Linked DNA regions of Homo sapiens: all the other regions are linked to region 2. The links come from fine-mapping of genetic effects on gene expression. A gene starts in region 2. Each other region holds a variant in brackets. All regions are shown on one strand. Distances are from middle to middle. Region 1 overlaps ZNF544 (zinc finger protein 544). Region 2 holds the start of ERVK3-1 (endogenous retrovirus group K3 member 1). Region 3 holds the start of RPS5 (ribosomal protein S5).

Region 1 (5,249 bases), 58 kb before region 2:
GTCCCACCCTTGTGACTTCATTTAATCTTAATCACCATTTTTTTTTTTTGAAACGGAGTCTCGCTCTGTTGCCCAGGCTGGAGTGCAGTGGCACAATCTCAGCTCACTGCAACTCCGCCTCCTGGTTTCAAGCAATTCTCCTGCCTCGGCCTCCCAAGTAGCTGGGATTACAGGTGCCCGCCACCACACCCAGCTAATTTTTTGTAGAGATGGGATTTCACCATGTTGGCCAGGCTGGTTTCGAACTCCTGACCTCAAGTAATCCACCCATCTCGGCCTCCCAAAGTGTTGGGATTACAGGCATGAACCACCGCGCCCGACCCCCTGTCACCTTCTTGAACAGTTCTTAAACAGTTAAAATTAATCACCTTGTTTGTGGGGTTTTTTTTTTTTTTTTCTTTTGAGATGGAGTCTCACCCTGTCACCCAGGCTGGAGTACAATGGCGCGATCTCAGCTCACTGCAACCTCTGCCTCCAGGTTCAAGCGATTCTCCTGCTGCAGCCAGGAAGAGTAGCTGGGATTACAGGCATGTGCCACCATGCCTGGCTAATTTTTGTATTTTTAGTAGAGACGGGGTTTCACCATGTTGGCCAGGCTGGTCTCGAACTCCTGACCTTGTGATCTGCCCGCCTCGGCCTCCCAAAGTGCTGGGATTACAGGCGTGAGCCACCGTGCCCGGTCAATCACCTTCTTCAACAGTCACTTTGGGAGTTAGGGTTCAACATGTGAATTTTGGGAACACAGTTTATTCTATAGCATTAGCCTTTTGAAAACACACCACAGCCCTGATTTGTCCTACAGGCTGCAGTTTTCCCACCCCGATTTAGAGTGTCTTTCTTACCTCATTTCGAATCTGTGATTTTTGTAGAGAGGAAGTGGGTGAGGATCTCCTAGTGGAGTTCCTGTCATTTCCAGTCTAGAAATCAGGACCACTGCTGTGACTGGCAAGAGGTGAGATGCCCAGAAAAGGAATGGTACAGACCACATACATGGAGCTGTCCCAGTCCGTTTGGGTTGCTATAATAAGATACCTTAGAGTGAGCAATTTACAAACAACAGAATTGACTGCTCATAGTTCTGGAGGCTGGTAAGTCCAAGATCAATGTGTCAACAGAGTTGGTCTGGTTGGGGCCTGCTGTCTCATAGATGGCACCTCTTACATGTCCTCATATGGTAGAAGGTGAACACAGGCTCCCTCAAGCCTCTTTTATGAGGACATTAATTGCCTTGTAAAGACCCCACCTCTTAACACTATCTCACTGGGTATTAGGTTCCAATGTATGAATTTTACGGGGGGACACCAACATTTAGGCCTTAACAGGTACCTCCGTGAGGGCATGAGGACCTGGGGTCTCTGAGCAGTAACAAGTGCCCTGTTTCAGGCATCTGTGTGCTTCGAGGATGTGGCTATGGCATTCACACAGGAGGAGTGGGAACAGCTGGACCTGGCCCAGAGGACACTGTACCGAGAGGTGACACTGGAGACCTGGGAGCATATTGTCTCCCTGGGTAAGTGGCTGTGCTCATGGAAGGAGGTTCTACCCCTAGGACTCAAAGCTGTACCAAGTTCTGAAGGGTGTTCTGGGATGTGCTGGAAGATACTGGAAGCAGGTCCCTTTCAGGTGCAGTTCCCAGGGGTTGCCCTTCATTCTATCTCTGGGACAGGTTTGTGACTTGTAGTCCTAACAGTGGGGAGTTTCCTCGGGACAGCACTAGGGGCTGAAGCTTGGACCCAGGACATGGTTCTTGGTGTCCAAGCAGAGGGGCAAGTCCTTTTTCCGTCTTTGACCAGGGCTTTTCCTTTCCAAATCTGATGTGATCTCTCAGCTGGAGCAAGAAGAGGACCTGTGCAGGGCAGAGCAGGAGGCCCCCCGAGGTAAGAGCAGACCTTGTGGTGAGCAGCTCAACGTTTAACAAGCTTGGACAGAGAGCTCTCCGCAGGGCCCCAGGGGCCAAGGAGGGAGCCTTGTTTGGAGGAAGCCTCCTTGGGTGCTCTTTGCAGCAGTTCACCCATTCAAAGGAGTTCACCAATTCGAAGTATGCAGTTCATGGCTTCCAGTGTCTTCCCTGAGTGTGGAACCCTCACCACAATCAGTTCTAGAACATGTTCATCATCCCAACCATTTAGGCCTCTTTACTTGATTTGTTTTTTTTTAATTAATGTATGTATTTATTTATTTATTTTGAGATAGGGTTTTACTCTGTTGCCCAGGCTGAAGTGCAGTGGCGCTGTCTTGGCTCACTATAGCCCCCATCTCCCTGGCTCAAGCAATTCTCATGCGTCAGCCTCCCTAGTAGCTTGGACTACAGGTGCACACTGCCACACCTGGCTAATTCTTTTGTTTTTGTTTTTGTTTTTTAAGACGGAGTTTCGCTCTTGTTGCCCAGACTGGAGTGCAATGGCACAATCTCGGCTCACCACAACCTCCACCTCCCAGGTTCAAGTGATTCTCCTGCCTCAGCCTCCCAAGTAGCTGGGATTACAGGCATGTCCACCATGCCCGGCTAATTTTTTGTATTTTTAGTGGAGACAGAGTTTCACCGTGTTAGCCAGGATGGTCTTGATCTCCTGACCTCATGATCCGCCCGCCTCAGCCTCCCAAAGTGCTGAGATTACAGGTGTGAGCCATCACGCCTGGCCCTAATTTTGTATTTTTATTAGAGGTGGGGTTTCTCCATGTTGGTCAGGCTGGTCTCGAACTCCCGACCTCAGGTGATCCACCTGCCTCAGCCTCCCAAAGTGCCGGGATTACAGGTATGAGCCACTGCACCTGGCCATTAATTTT[T/C]GTATTTTTAATGGAGATAGGGTTTCATCATGTTGCCCAGGCTAATAGACTTTATTTTTTAGAGCAGTTTTAGGTTTATAGGTAAGTTGACGAGAAAGTGCAGAGTTCCCACCCATGTCTGCTGTCCTACAGACACATGCAGTGTCTCCTGCTGTTAACAACTTGGATTTGTATTGTACATCTGTTACAATCGGCAAACCTATCTTGAGGCATCCTTTTTTTTTTTCCCAGACAGAGTCTCACTCTGTCACCAGGCTGGCGTACAGTGGTGTGATCTCAGCTCACTGCAACCTCCGCCCCCCAGGTTCAAGTGATTTTCCTGCCTCAACCTCCCAACTAACTGGGACTACAGGCACGCACCACCACGCCCAGCTAATTTTTGTATTTTTAGTAGAGTCAGAGTTTCACCATGTTGGCCAGGATGGTCTCGATCTCCTGACCTCATGATGCGCCCCCCTCAGCCTCCCAAAGTGCTGGGATTACAGGCGTGAGCCACTACCCCTTGCCCTTGAGGCATCATTATCACCCAAAGTCCATAGTTTATGATAGGGTTCATGCTTTTTTTTTTCTTTTTTTTTTTTTTTTTTTGAGACAGTGATGCAGTCATAGCTTAAGCCTTCTGGGCTTAAGTGATCCTCCCACCTCTCTGCACCCCAGCCTCAGGTGCCACAGCATGCACCACCATGCCTGGCTAATGTAAAAATTTTTTGTAGAGATGGAGTGTCACTGTGTTGCCCAGGCTTGTCTTGAACTCCTGGGCTCAAGTGATCCTCCCACCTCAGCCTCCCAAAGTGCTGGGATTACATGTATGAGCCACTGCACCTGGCCAGGCTTCACTCCTGATGTTGTATATTCTGTGCATTTGGACAAATGTACAATGTCATGTATCCACCATTATAGTATCAGACAGAGTAGTTCCACTACCCTAAATATTCTCTGTGCTCTACCCATTCATCCCTCCCTCATCCCCAGCCCCTGGTGTTACTGGTGGAGGATGTGCAGGTTCTTGGCATTTTGAACAAAGAATTGGACAAAATGCATAAAACAATGAAAGAATGAAGCAAAAAAAGCATAGATTTATCAAAATGAAAGTACACTCCACACAATGGGAGTGGTCTGGAGCAAGCAGCTCAAGAGCACTGGTTACAGAATTTTCTGGGGTTTAAATCCCGAGAGGTTTCCCATTGGTTACTTGGTTTATATCCTCTGTAAATGAAGTAGTGGCCCATAACTAGTCTGATTGGTTGGGGAAGGTGACCAACAGAGGCTGAAGTGAAGTTACAAAGTTACACCTCTATGCAGATGAAAACTAGGCCAGTGACCAGTCTCATTGGTTGCAGGAAGAGGTACTTTCCATTTTTCATCTGCGACACAGAAGGCGGGGGTTGCCTCTGATCCTTTTGTTATTTGGGGCATGGAAAGTTTGGGTTTTCCTTTTGATTCAGTTCCAGGAAGTCAGCATTAATCACCCTTAGGTTTCTTGCCTCCATACCCTGTTCTCATACCTCATTTCCCCCCGAAAGACATGATCCTCATAAATCTTTATGGGAGGTAAAGGGATTGATAGTCTTTCTTCTGTAACTGCTTTATGCTGACCTGAGGCACAGTCCCTACGTACTGGGGAATCACAGGACTCTCTCCCCGCCCTGTCTAGTGGAGACAGGATAGCTTCTTGATGGCCAGGGGTGGTGTCTCCACCTGGAACTGGCTGGAAACATTGTCACATGATCATCTGAAGCTTGATGGTCTCTAGGTGACAGGAAATGAATTTGGTTAAGAGTTTAACAAACATGGTCCAAAAACCAAGGCAAGTATAGTCATTACTAATGGGCTGGCCAGAGGAAGGAGCCATGAACCCCAACTTAGCATTTTTGACCAGGAGCCCCATGACTCAGATAGCTGTTGTTGTATTTTAGAGGCCCAGTTGGGTAGTTTTTGGGTGGCATTTGTTACTAATCCTCATTGTTCGGCATAAAAACAGCATTCTTCCTCTAGAAAAAGACCTAAGCCCCCCTTTACAGCAGTTAGGAGATCTCATCCCCTTCTGTTTTGCCAAGCAACTGCTGCTGAGGCATCTATTTGATTTCGTATGGTGATGATACTTTGGCCAATGTCTCTATTTTTTCTTTTTTACTTTGGGCAATGTCATTCAAGCTTTCCATAAAATCCTTGGAAAAGCATTGGTAATAGGATAGGGATGTTACAACCCGGCTGACTCCCATTCCCAGTCCCGCGGTTATTTGTAGTCCTACCAAAAGGGATGTGAGTTGGATGGTTCATTTGTGTCTGGCAATTGCAGTTAAAGGTATAATGAGGGATTGGTTCTTGGGAGCTATATTAATTTCACAGGCTAAATAAACAAGTGTAAAGGTTCTAGTCCAATTGGCTGGTAAACATAAGTAAGAACTAGTTCCACACAGGTAAAAGGCTCCTAGTTTTTCAAGACAAGAATTTTCTATGGT
Region 2 (5,249 bases):
TTTCCATTTATGTAAAGAAGAAACAGGCTAGGCAAGGTGACTCACGCCTGTAATCCCAGCACTTTGGGAGGCCGAGGCGGGTGGATCACCTGAGGTCCGGAGTTCAAGACCAGCCTGACCAACACGGTGAAACCCCATCTCTACTAAAAATACAAAAGCTGGGTGTGGTGGTGCACACTTCTAATCCCAGCTACTCCGTAGGCTAAGGCAGGAGAATCGCTTGAACCCAGGAAGTGGAGGTTGCAGTGAGCCAATATTGTGCCATTGCACTCCAGCTTGGGCAACAAGAGCGAAACTCCATCTCAAAAATAAATAAATAAATAAGAAACATTTGTTTATATGTACACACATAATCTCTGAAAGGGTAAAAGTGGCATACTGGTTGGCCAGAAGAATTGGGAGGACAGTGATGAGGAATAATTTTCACTCTTTATCATTTTATATTTTTGGAATTTTGAAACATGTAAAATTATTACCAGTTCAAAAAATAAATTTAAACAAAAATCTTAACTGTTTCAAATTAAAGTAAGTTTGATAATTTCTTTCATTGTTTACTGTCTGCATCCCCCATACAGTGTTCACATGAGCAGAGAGTGTGTGTCTTGGTCATATTCATACTTGTTCTATATATACTCGTGTGTGTGTGTGTGTTCAGTTGACAGAAACAGTTGAGTGTAAAACAGCTTCAACTCGATGATACCAAAGATACAAGATAAAGGTCCCTGGAGGGTGGCTGTAGCGCACACATACATTTCCAAGTTACTTTGTTAAATTTCCTGTATCAATGAGCCCCAATTATGAGAGCCCCCTACATACAAGTTTTAGCCAATAGCCAAGTCCCCCATTTCCAGTGTTATCTTCATGTCCTCCAAGGTATTCAAGTTGTTTCTGCAATGGGTAACTGGGAAGAAATCAGCATCCAGTCTGAAAAGCAGTCTCCCATAGGTCTTTTGTAAGGAGATCCAACATGGACATCTTCCAGAATGCACTGTACAACATGGTAGCCACTAGTCATGTATAGCTATTTAGATGTAAATTTTTTTAATTAAAAAAATTTTTCATTTATAGCAACAGGGACTCACTGTGTTGCCCAGGTTGGTCTCGAATTCCTGGGCTTTAGTGGTTCTCCCACTGTGGCCTCCCAAAGTGCTGGGATTACAGGCGTGAGCCACCATGCCCGGCCCAGAGCTGATAGAATTTTTAAAGTCCCCCTGTGATGATCTGACTGTGGTAGGAGTAGGGAGGTGTAACCCGAGTCAGTATGCACATTGGGAGCCTCCTCCACTAGGTCATACAGGCCTTCTGCGTGTAGATGGAATTATCATGTCCCACACTGTACCCCGGCACCTCCCTCGATTAAGGTGATTTGCATCATGCAGGGCCTGCCTGTTATCAGAGAGTCTCCTGGACATACAGAAATAGGAATGTACAGGGACTGCATACACCTGTTGCTCAATTTCTAGCTAAATGGCTGGAGGTGGGGGATAAAGAAATGGCATTCATACGGTGTAATACTAGCCATGTTTCAGAAAGTTTTCAAAAAATGTTTAGTGGAGAAATGTGCAGGGTCAGTGGAAGAAAACCTGTAAAATTATATTATGATTGTTTTATACTCTATACGGACAAGCCTAAATTGGAGGGCATTTTGGAAAACTCGCTTGGATACATGAAAACTGCCAAGATCATTATAAAGAAACAACAGGATCCATTCTAGATTGAAAGCAACTTGAAATGAGACAGTAGAGTGTAATGCGTGTTTAGTTTGTGCTTGAATAAAAGACGAAAACTACGTAAGACATTGGGACAACTGGAGAAATTAGCATATGGGCTGGGGATTGGGTACAGGCTTCAATGTCGTTACTTGGGTGAGTTGAAGAATGTACGTGTTCTTAGGGGACATCTGCTTAAGGATATACAAGGTTCAGGGGGGAAAAATATCTCCAAACGATATACTTTTATATCTATGTGTGTACATGTGTGCGCGTAGAGAAAGAAAAAAGTACATACGCTGTATATTTCAAAGAACATATAAAACCATGGATGTCAATATACTTCCCTTCCGGTGCGCTGCCTGCGCAGAACCGAGAGGTTCTGACGATCCGCAGCTCCCACGCTCCCCTTCCGGCCCCGCAGCGCTGTGAACTCCATTTCCCAGAAGGCCTTGTATCCCGTGCATGGCCGTTTCCAGGCAGGAAGGCGAAGGGCCTTCTGGGAGGTGAGGTCCTGGGCGGCCGCTGGCCACCAGGCGGAAGTGCGTACCGGAAGTGCCGGCGGCAGTGTGTAAGACGCTCACGGGCGCGCGGACTATCGGGCGGCTAGGCTCTCTGAGGAGGCTGCCACAGTGGTGAGTGGTGTGTGGAGGAGAGGCGAGGGTGATTGTGAGGGATGGAGAGGCGCCCGTGGCCTAAGTGTGCTGATGGTGGGAGTGAATGAGTGGACGGGTGGGACCTGTGAGGGGAACGCGACCCCGGGTCGGCGCGGGCAGAGAGGCGCGCGGTGCGTGAGGGCGCGACCTGCCATGTCCTGCCGGGTGTCACCGCTTATGCGCCCGTGGGAGGGGAGCATTCTGTGTTGGAGGCAGAAGGAATGAGGGTCGTGACCAACTCATTATACCACTGGAGGCTCTATGAGCAAACCGCAAACTGTTCTCATGAAAGCAGGATGTTGGTAAACTGACAAACTGCGTCTGCCGCCAGAAGGAATGCTGGGGGCAGTCATGTCCCAGGTCCCCTGCTCCTTGAGGTTATCTACAGGAACATCTGGAACCTGCTGAACAAAGAAAGCAGTCATGTGGGCCTGTGTTAAATCAAATAGCTGACCGTCAGTTACCCTTTCCTCCCTATTCAGTCTACCTAACAAATATGAAGGGCTGTAAAAGCTCAGGGCCCTGTTCCCTAGAATCTAGGAGCCCCCTGACCCCTTCTTTCAAACAGATCCTTTTGTCTTTGTCTTCATTTCTGCCTTCGTTCTCCTTCGTTTGGTCCAGAAGCAACCGTGACAAGTGGTGCCCGACCAGGGACCTGAACGAGGAAGGTCTGCCAGAGCAGAGAAAGTGAAACTGATCAGACGAACTACGAACCCCTGGACGGGAGAGTCTGCCGGCGGAGAATATAAGGTCAGTTCCCTGAGAAGGTATCGGGAGCGGGAGGTTTCTGAATCAGGGTAACATGGGGCAGAATCTGTCTGTTGAGGAGCAACATTATGTGCAGCTGCTTAAAGTTTTACTTAAACAATCTGGTGCTCGGGTTAGTTCTCAAACATTAAGCTTCTGCAGGAGGTTATTACACATAACCCATGGTTTCTGCAGACAGGTACTCTTGCTGTGGAAAATTGAGACTGAGTAGGAGAAAGATTGAAACGAGCTCATCAGAAAGTTCTTAAAGTGGATCCTTCTATTTTCTCTGCTTGGGGTTTGGTCTGTACTGTCCTCCTGCCATTGTCCTCTTCTTATTCTGCCAGACAGCAGGTGCTATGTTCTGAATCTCAAAAATTGAAAGAATCTTTTGTCTCACCAGCAGCGCCCATTGAAAATGATAAACAGGAGAGGGAGGATGAGAACTGGCCTGTACTGTCCCCTCCAGTAGCAGAAATAGAGACCCCAGTACAAAAAATTCTACATGCTGTGGCCATAGCTGGCGAGCCACTAGGACCTTGCACTTTTCCTATTACCTTAAGGCCTGATCCAAATAATCCACAGCAGTTTATTCATGAACACACTCCAGTAAAATTTAAATTATTGAAAGAATTAAAAGCTAGTGTGGTTAATAATGGAATACAGAGCCCATTTACTTTAGGATTGTTAGAATCTGTATTCAGCACTATGCGCCTCCCACCCTTGGATATAAAGCATTTAGCTTGCACTTGTTTCTCTGCTAGTGCATATTTGACATGGAATTTAAATTGGCAAGAAATGTGTGCAGACCAGGCTAGACAGAATCTCACCGCTGGACATGGGAACATTACAGAGGAAATGCTATTGGGTAGTGACTCTTATTCAGATCTGGTGCAACAATTGACACTTCCAGATGCTGCTTACCATCAGTGCGCCTGGCCGCTAAGCGTGCCTGGGCCACCATTCCTGAGAAAGGGGTCTCAATAAAATCTTTTCCGCATATCATGCAAAAATCACAGGAGCCCTTTGCACAATTTATTGCACAGTTACAACAGTCAGTGAGGCATCAGATTCCTCATACTGCTCCTGCGAAAATGCTTACTTTGACCCTAGCTTTTGAAAATGCAAATGCAGATTGTAAATGTGCATTAGCACCCGTGAGATGTACAAACAGCTTGGGAAATTTTCTCAAAGCCTGTCAGGATGTGGGAACTGAACTCCATCGTTCAACTGTGTTAGCTCAAGTAATAGCTAATTTAGTAGTGAACAAATCTGAAAAGGGCCAAGGGTTGAGCCCTAAAGTGGGAAAATGTTATAATTGTGGAAAAATTGGACATTTCAAAAAAGAATACCATCAGACCTCTGGGCAGAAGGGATCTTACAATGCAATACCGCCCCCCCCTCCCCGCCCCGCTCCCCCCAACACACACACACAGAAAAAAAAACACCAGGACTTTGCCCTCGCCGTAATAAAGGAAATCATTGGGCTAATCAGTGTTGCTCAAAATTTCATCAGAATGGCACCCCGCTCTCAGGAAATGAGAATGGGGCCTGGGCCCCTCAAACAATGAGGGCATTCCCCATCCAGGCCACAACCCTGCTACAGGGGTGGGTTCCTGGAGGAACATTGACTCCCTCTCCTCTGGAACACCGGGGAGTGCAGGATTAGATCGCTCAGTCAGAGAATGGGTCACGTTAGTTGGAGGAGACAAACCCACCAGAATTCCCACAGGCATTTGGGAACCTTTGCCAACAGGATATACAGGATTAATTTTAGGCCAAAGCCATCTGAACTTACAGGGCATTACTGTGATCCCTGGATTGTTGACTCTGATTATGAAGGAGAAATTCAAGTAATTGTAATGTCACAAGATCTTTGGGTTTTTAAACCTGGGAAATATATTGCTCAGCTATTGCTTATTATTATTCTCTGCAAATTACACCCTTCTTCACGAAAGGAGAAAAGAGGAAATCAAGAATTTGGGAGTACAACTACACAGGAAATTTACCTATCCCAACCCATAGCTTCTAATTGACCCACCTGTGCAGTGCAAATTAAAGGAAAGAAGTGTTGTGGGTGTATGGACACAGGAGCAGATGTTTCAGTAATATCCAAAAACAATTGGCCCCTGCTACT
Region 3 (5,148 bases), 83 kb after region 2:
GAACCCAGCGTGGTATGGCAGGAAAGGTCGAGCAGGGAAACAGGCCCAGCCAGAGGCTCGGGATCCGGGGCTCGCGAGCGTGGTGCTCCTGGGCCGGGCGGTGGGGGAGGGGCCGCGTGTGGCAGGCACATGCGCACGGCAACCTGGACCTGCGGAGGGCGGCGGTGACCACTGGGCCTCACTCCGCTAACCCAGGTCCGCATCAGGCGCGTGCCGGTGAGGCGGCTGTGGCCGCGGCGAGGAGTCAGAGGGAACTGAACTGGCTACTCCCGCGGCAGGTGGGATTTAAGGTCAGCAGCTGAACAAAGAAGCGAGCGCTGGCCAGACTTTTTTCTTTATTAGACATGGCTGCGTTGGTCTCACGGAAATCTCTGCGCTTTTGCAGGCGCCCACAAGACAGGGCAACTACGGGGTAGCGGACATCCGCCAGGCACGCTTCTAGGGCCGCTTCTGCAACTGCGCATGCGCTTGGGCTGCACCCATTCCGTCTAGCCCAAAAGGTTCCTCTACAACCTTCCTCCGGATTGGTCTATAGGGACACGATGGCCTTTTACGCAAGCGTCACCCGTGCTGACCCGGAAGTTTTCTTCCCAGTTAAAAGTGTTGGCCCGCGGCGCGCGGCCTCTTCCTGTCTGTACCAGGGCGGCGCGTGGTCTACGCCGAGTGACAGAGACGCTCAGGCTGTGTTCTCAGGTGAGACCGCCGCGGGGCCGGGGATCCTAGGGACGGTTCATGGTCTTTCGGGGATAGTGCCCCGCGGCCTGGGCCTTTTCTCATTAGGTCTCATTTCTGTCTCTGGAAAAGAAAATGTAGAAGAAACGGGCGCGGGCCGAGTTACTCTTGACTTCTTTCTGGTGCTCCGCCGCTTCTAGCTTTTCCCCATAGCGGGGCTTGGGGAACTTGGTTTGAACTATGCGGTTGTACTCTGAGATAGGAAGTTTCCATTTCTTAGGGACACGATGCCCTCTTTTGCTCTGTGTAACTTTCCCCCCGTAATAGCAGCCCCTAGAGCCTTCATACTGTCGGTCAAGAATCGAAACCTTTGGGTTGATTGTGCCACACGGTACCTACCGTGGTCCTTGATGTCATATAACGGTCCCGCCTCACGGCCAAAGAAACAGTCCGAGACGGAACGTTGACTTGGGTCAAAGACCATGTAAATCGCGAGATTGTGGTTTGAATTACAGCCCATGCAGTGTGAGGACGTATGGCATCTGCTGAGCCATTATACCTTGGTCCCAGTGCAGCAGCTGTTGACTGGTGGCTGCCAAGTCTTGGGCCCAGGGGTTCTAGGTGAAAGACAGATGCTTCTTGCTGACAGCTGAGTAATTTTTCTAGTGCTTGAAAACACGTTCACGGCCTTTCTTGGTCCTTTGCGACCCCCCAGTTCATCACTAGATGGCGGCTAGCCTCAGAGTTGGGAATGAGTGCGCCTTTGCTCCATGCTAGCTGAGCTCTGACGTTTTTTTCCTGTCATCACCCTGTCCCAGGATGACCGAGTGGGAGACAGCAGCACCAGCGGTGGCAGAGACCCCAGACATCAAGCTCTTTGGGAAGTGGAGCACCGATGATGTGCAGATCAATGACATTTCCCTGCAGGTGAGGGGAACTTGGTGATTGGCCTTCCTGGCTGGGGGCGGACATTATTCCAGGAAGGCACACATCAAACTTGTTGCTGTGCCATTAAGTCAAGAATAGAGATCATAACAGGTAAAGAAGGGATCCCTTGACCACCACATCTACCACATCTGCTCTTACGTCCTGTTCAAAGATGACTACAACTTCTGTCATGAGAGGACTCCTTCACCAGAAGGAGCATCACATCTCACATATGGTATTTTTGTTACTGTTTTTGTAGTAAAATACATAACATCCAGTGTCATTCTTTTGCATGTGAATATCCAGTTATCCAGTACCATCTCCTAAAGAGATGTTTTTTTTCCCTCAATTGAATGGCCTTGGCCACTTGTCATAAATCAGCTGGCCGTAGTTTTTTTTTTTTTTTTTTTTTTTTGAGACGGAGTCTCACTCTGTTCCCTGGGCTGGAGTGCAGTGACGCGATCTGCCTACCGGGTTCACACCATTCTC[C/T]TGCCTCAGCCTCCTGAGTAGCTGGGACTACAGGTGCCCGCCACTGCACCTGGCTGATTTTTTTTTTTTTATTTTTAGTAGAGACAGGGTTTCACCGAGTTAGCCAGGATGGTCTCGATCTCCTGACCTCGTGATCCGCCCGTCTCGGCCTCCCAAAGTGCTGGGATTACAGGCGTGAGCCACCGCGCCCGGCCCAGATGTATGGGTTTCATTACAGACTTTCAGTTATATTCCACTGGTCTATATGTCTGTCTCTATGCCAGTACCACACTTTCTTGCTTTGTATTAAGTTTTGCAATTGGGAAGTGTGAGTTGTCCTACTTTGTTCCTACTCCGTACGGTTTTACACATACCCTTTTTTTCCCCTCCCCATGAAGGCATCATTAAGAATTTTGTGGGCCTTAAGAACTTTAGCTTTTGTGAGCCCTTCCTCCATTAAAAGAAAGTGTTTGAAATTATATTTTGTGACTGCATTGATATAAAGATGAATATAACTTGGGTTGCACTTTATTCACTTTCCTCCTCTTTTTTTTTAATCATTAAAGTTTTATCTTTGAGATAAGATCACTCTCTGTCACCCAGGCTGGAGTGCAGTGGTGTGATCACAGTTCACTGCAGCCTCAATACACCTGGGCTCAGGGGATCTTCCTGTCTTAGACTCCAACTAGCTGGGACCAAAGATGCATGCCACCAAACCTGCTACCTTTTGTTTTATAAAGAATGAAAACTTTTTTGTTGTCTGTAAAGATGTCAGGGGACTTAGGCACTATGCCTAATGGATAATTCAGCCTTGTTTTTCACTCTGAATATCTTGTAGATCTTGGCTTTTCTTTCCTTCAGGGGTTTATTTCGGGGGGTCCAAAAACATTTTAAATATTATTATTATTTTTTGTTTGTTTATTTATTTATTTATTTTTTTGAAACGGAGTTTCGCTCTTATTGCCCAGGCTGGAGTGCAATGGCACGATCTTAGCTCACCACAACCTCCGCCTCCCGGGTTCAAGCAATGCTCCCGCCTCAGCCTCCCAAGTAGCTGAGATTACAGGCGCACACCACCACGCCTGGCTAATTTTTGTATTTTTAGTAGAGACGGGGTTTCACCATGTTGGTTAGGCTGGTCTCGAACTCCTGACCTCATGATCTGCCCGGCCACATTTTAATTATTTATTTATTTTTTGAGACAGAGTTTCGTTCTTGTCGCCCAGTCTGGAGTGCAATGGTGCGATCTTGGCTCACTGCAACCTCTGCCTCCTGGGTTCAAGCGATTCTCCTGTCTCAGCCTCCCAAGTAGCGGGGATTACAGGCACATGCCACCGCACCCAGCTAATTTTTTTATTTTTAGTTGAGACAGGGTTTCATCATATTGGTCAGGCTGGTCTCTTAACTCCTGACTTCAGGTGATCAGCCTGCCTCAGCCTCCCAAAGTGCTGGGATTACAGGCATGAGCCACCACGCCTGGCGTTATTTATTTATTTGTGAGACAGAGTCTCTCTCTGCCTCCCAGGCTGGAGTGCAGTGGTGCGATCTCGGCTCACTGCAACCTCTGCCTCCCCAGGGTCATGCGACTTTCCTGCCTCAGCCTCCCGAAGTGCTGGGGTTATAGGCATGAGCCACTGCGCCCAGCCCACAAACATTTTCATTATAGGCCCAGATAATGTTTTAGACTTTGTGGGCCACACTGGCCACTGTTACTTTTTTTTTTTTTTTTTTTTTTTTTTTTTGAGATGGAGTCGCTCTGTCACCCAGGCTGGAGTGCAGTGGCACGATCTCGGCTCACTGCAACCTCCACCTCCTAGGTTCAGGTGATTTTCCTGCCTCAGCCTCCCTAGTAGCTGGAACTACAGGTGCATGCCACCACACCTGGCTAATTTTTGTCTTTTTAGTAGAGACAGGGTTTCACCATGTTGGCCAGGCTGGCCTTGAACTCCTTGATCTATTAAACGTTTGTTAAGTGCCTGTTCCACTAGGGAAATAAACATCAATGGGAGTTCACTGTATTTTAAACACCTGTGCAGGGCTCCACTGTTGGGCCAAACCCTTCCTGGGGAATTTGGTGTTTGCAATTTTTTGCTGCATAGTGAAAGCCCTGCGTGAATGCCCTTCACGAGACTGTGAGTTTTTTTTTTCTTGCAGCCAGACTATGAAATAGTACTGAGAGTTTCAGTGTCCTGTGTTCTTTTCCCATCATTCCTTGTATTTGTAGAAACAGGTATTTTGTGTATATTCTCAGAGGCAAGTGATAGAATGGCCTTGGGTACATTTTGTAATGGAACTATCAACAGCAGTCTCCTTCGAATGCACATAGCTCCTTTCTTCCCCTTTACATACTCAAGGTTAACTTTTTGGCATTTTTCTAGATTTTTGTGTGGGGATGGCTATGTAAGTATAAGAAGACTTGTTAAATGATTGTTTTAAAACTGTGGTTCTGGGCCGGGCGCCGTAATCCCAGCACTTTGGGAGACTGAGGCGGGCAGATCATCTGAGGTCAGGGGTTTGAGACCAGCCTGGCCAACATGGTGAAGCCCCGTCTCTACTAAAAATACAAAAATTAGCCTTGCATGGTGGCGTGCACCTGTTGTCCCAGCTACTTAGGAGGCTGATGCAGGAGAATCGCTTGAACCTGGGAGGTGGAGGTTGGGATGAGCTGAAATCATGCCATTGCACTCCAGCCTGGCCAACAAGAGCGAAACTCCATCTCAAAAAAAAAAAAAAAAAAAACTGGGCTGAGCATGGTGACGCATGTCTGTAATCCCAGCAACTTGGGAGGCTGAGGCAGGAGAATTGCTTCAACCCAGGAGGTGGAGGTTGCAGTGAGCCAAGATTGCAACGTTGCACTCCAGCCTGGGTGACAGAGTGAGACTCCATCTCAAAAACAAACAAACAAAAAACCCAAAAACAAAAAAGTTCTCAGCCAGGTGCAGTGGCTTATGCCTGTAATCCCATCACTTTGGGAGGCTGAGGCGGACGGATCACCTGAGGTCAAGAGTTCAAGACCAGCCTGGCCAACATGTCCAAACCCCAGCTCTACTAAAAATACAAAAATTAGCCTGGCATGGTGGC

The links.
Region 1: its variant is fine-mapped to the expression of ERVK3-1 in substantia nigra (GTEx, PIP above 0.99). The same link has a PIP of 0.9 or more in whole blood.
Region 3: its variant is fine-mapped to the expression of ERVK3-1 in putamen (GTEx, PIP 0.98).

What each region holds. Positions count from the first base shown.
Region 1 is chr19:58,244,918-58,250,166 of GRCh38, forward strand. It overlaps ZNF544 (zinc finger protein 544), which reads left to right. Exons shown (of 7, transcript NM_014480.4): 5 at 1,384-1,510; 6 at 1,794-1,877. Among named protein-coding and RNA genes, the nearest start is that of ZNF544, 19 kb to the left of the region's middle. The variant T/C (reference allele first, on the strand shown) is at 2,788.
Region 2 is chr19:58,303,102-58,308,350 of GRCh38, forward strand. It overlaps ERVK3-1 (endogenous retrovirus group K3 member 1), which reads left to right and starts at 2,276. Exons shown (of 4, transcript NM_001396080.1): 1 at 2,276-2,344; 2 at 2,987-3,115. It overlaps ZNF8-ERVK3-1 (ZNF8-ERVK3-1 readthrough (NMD candidate)), which reads left to right. Exons shown (of 7, transcript NR_144447.1): 5 at 2,987-3,115. RefSeq lists enhancers at 1,998-2,267, 2,482-2,982.
Region 3 is chr19:58,386,647-58,391,794 of GRCh38, forward strand. RPS5 (ribosomal protein S5) reads left to right here and starts at 623. Exons shown (of 6, transcript NM_001009.4): 1 at 623-693; 2 at 1,491-1,599. The coding sequence starts at 1,492. MIR4754 (microRNA 4754) reads right to left here and starts at 212; the gene lies at 124-212. RefSeq lists enhancers at 396-690, 884-933. The variant C/T (reference allele first, on the strand shown) is at 2,089.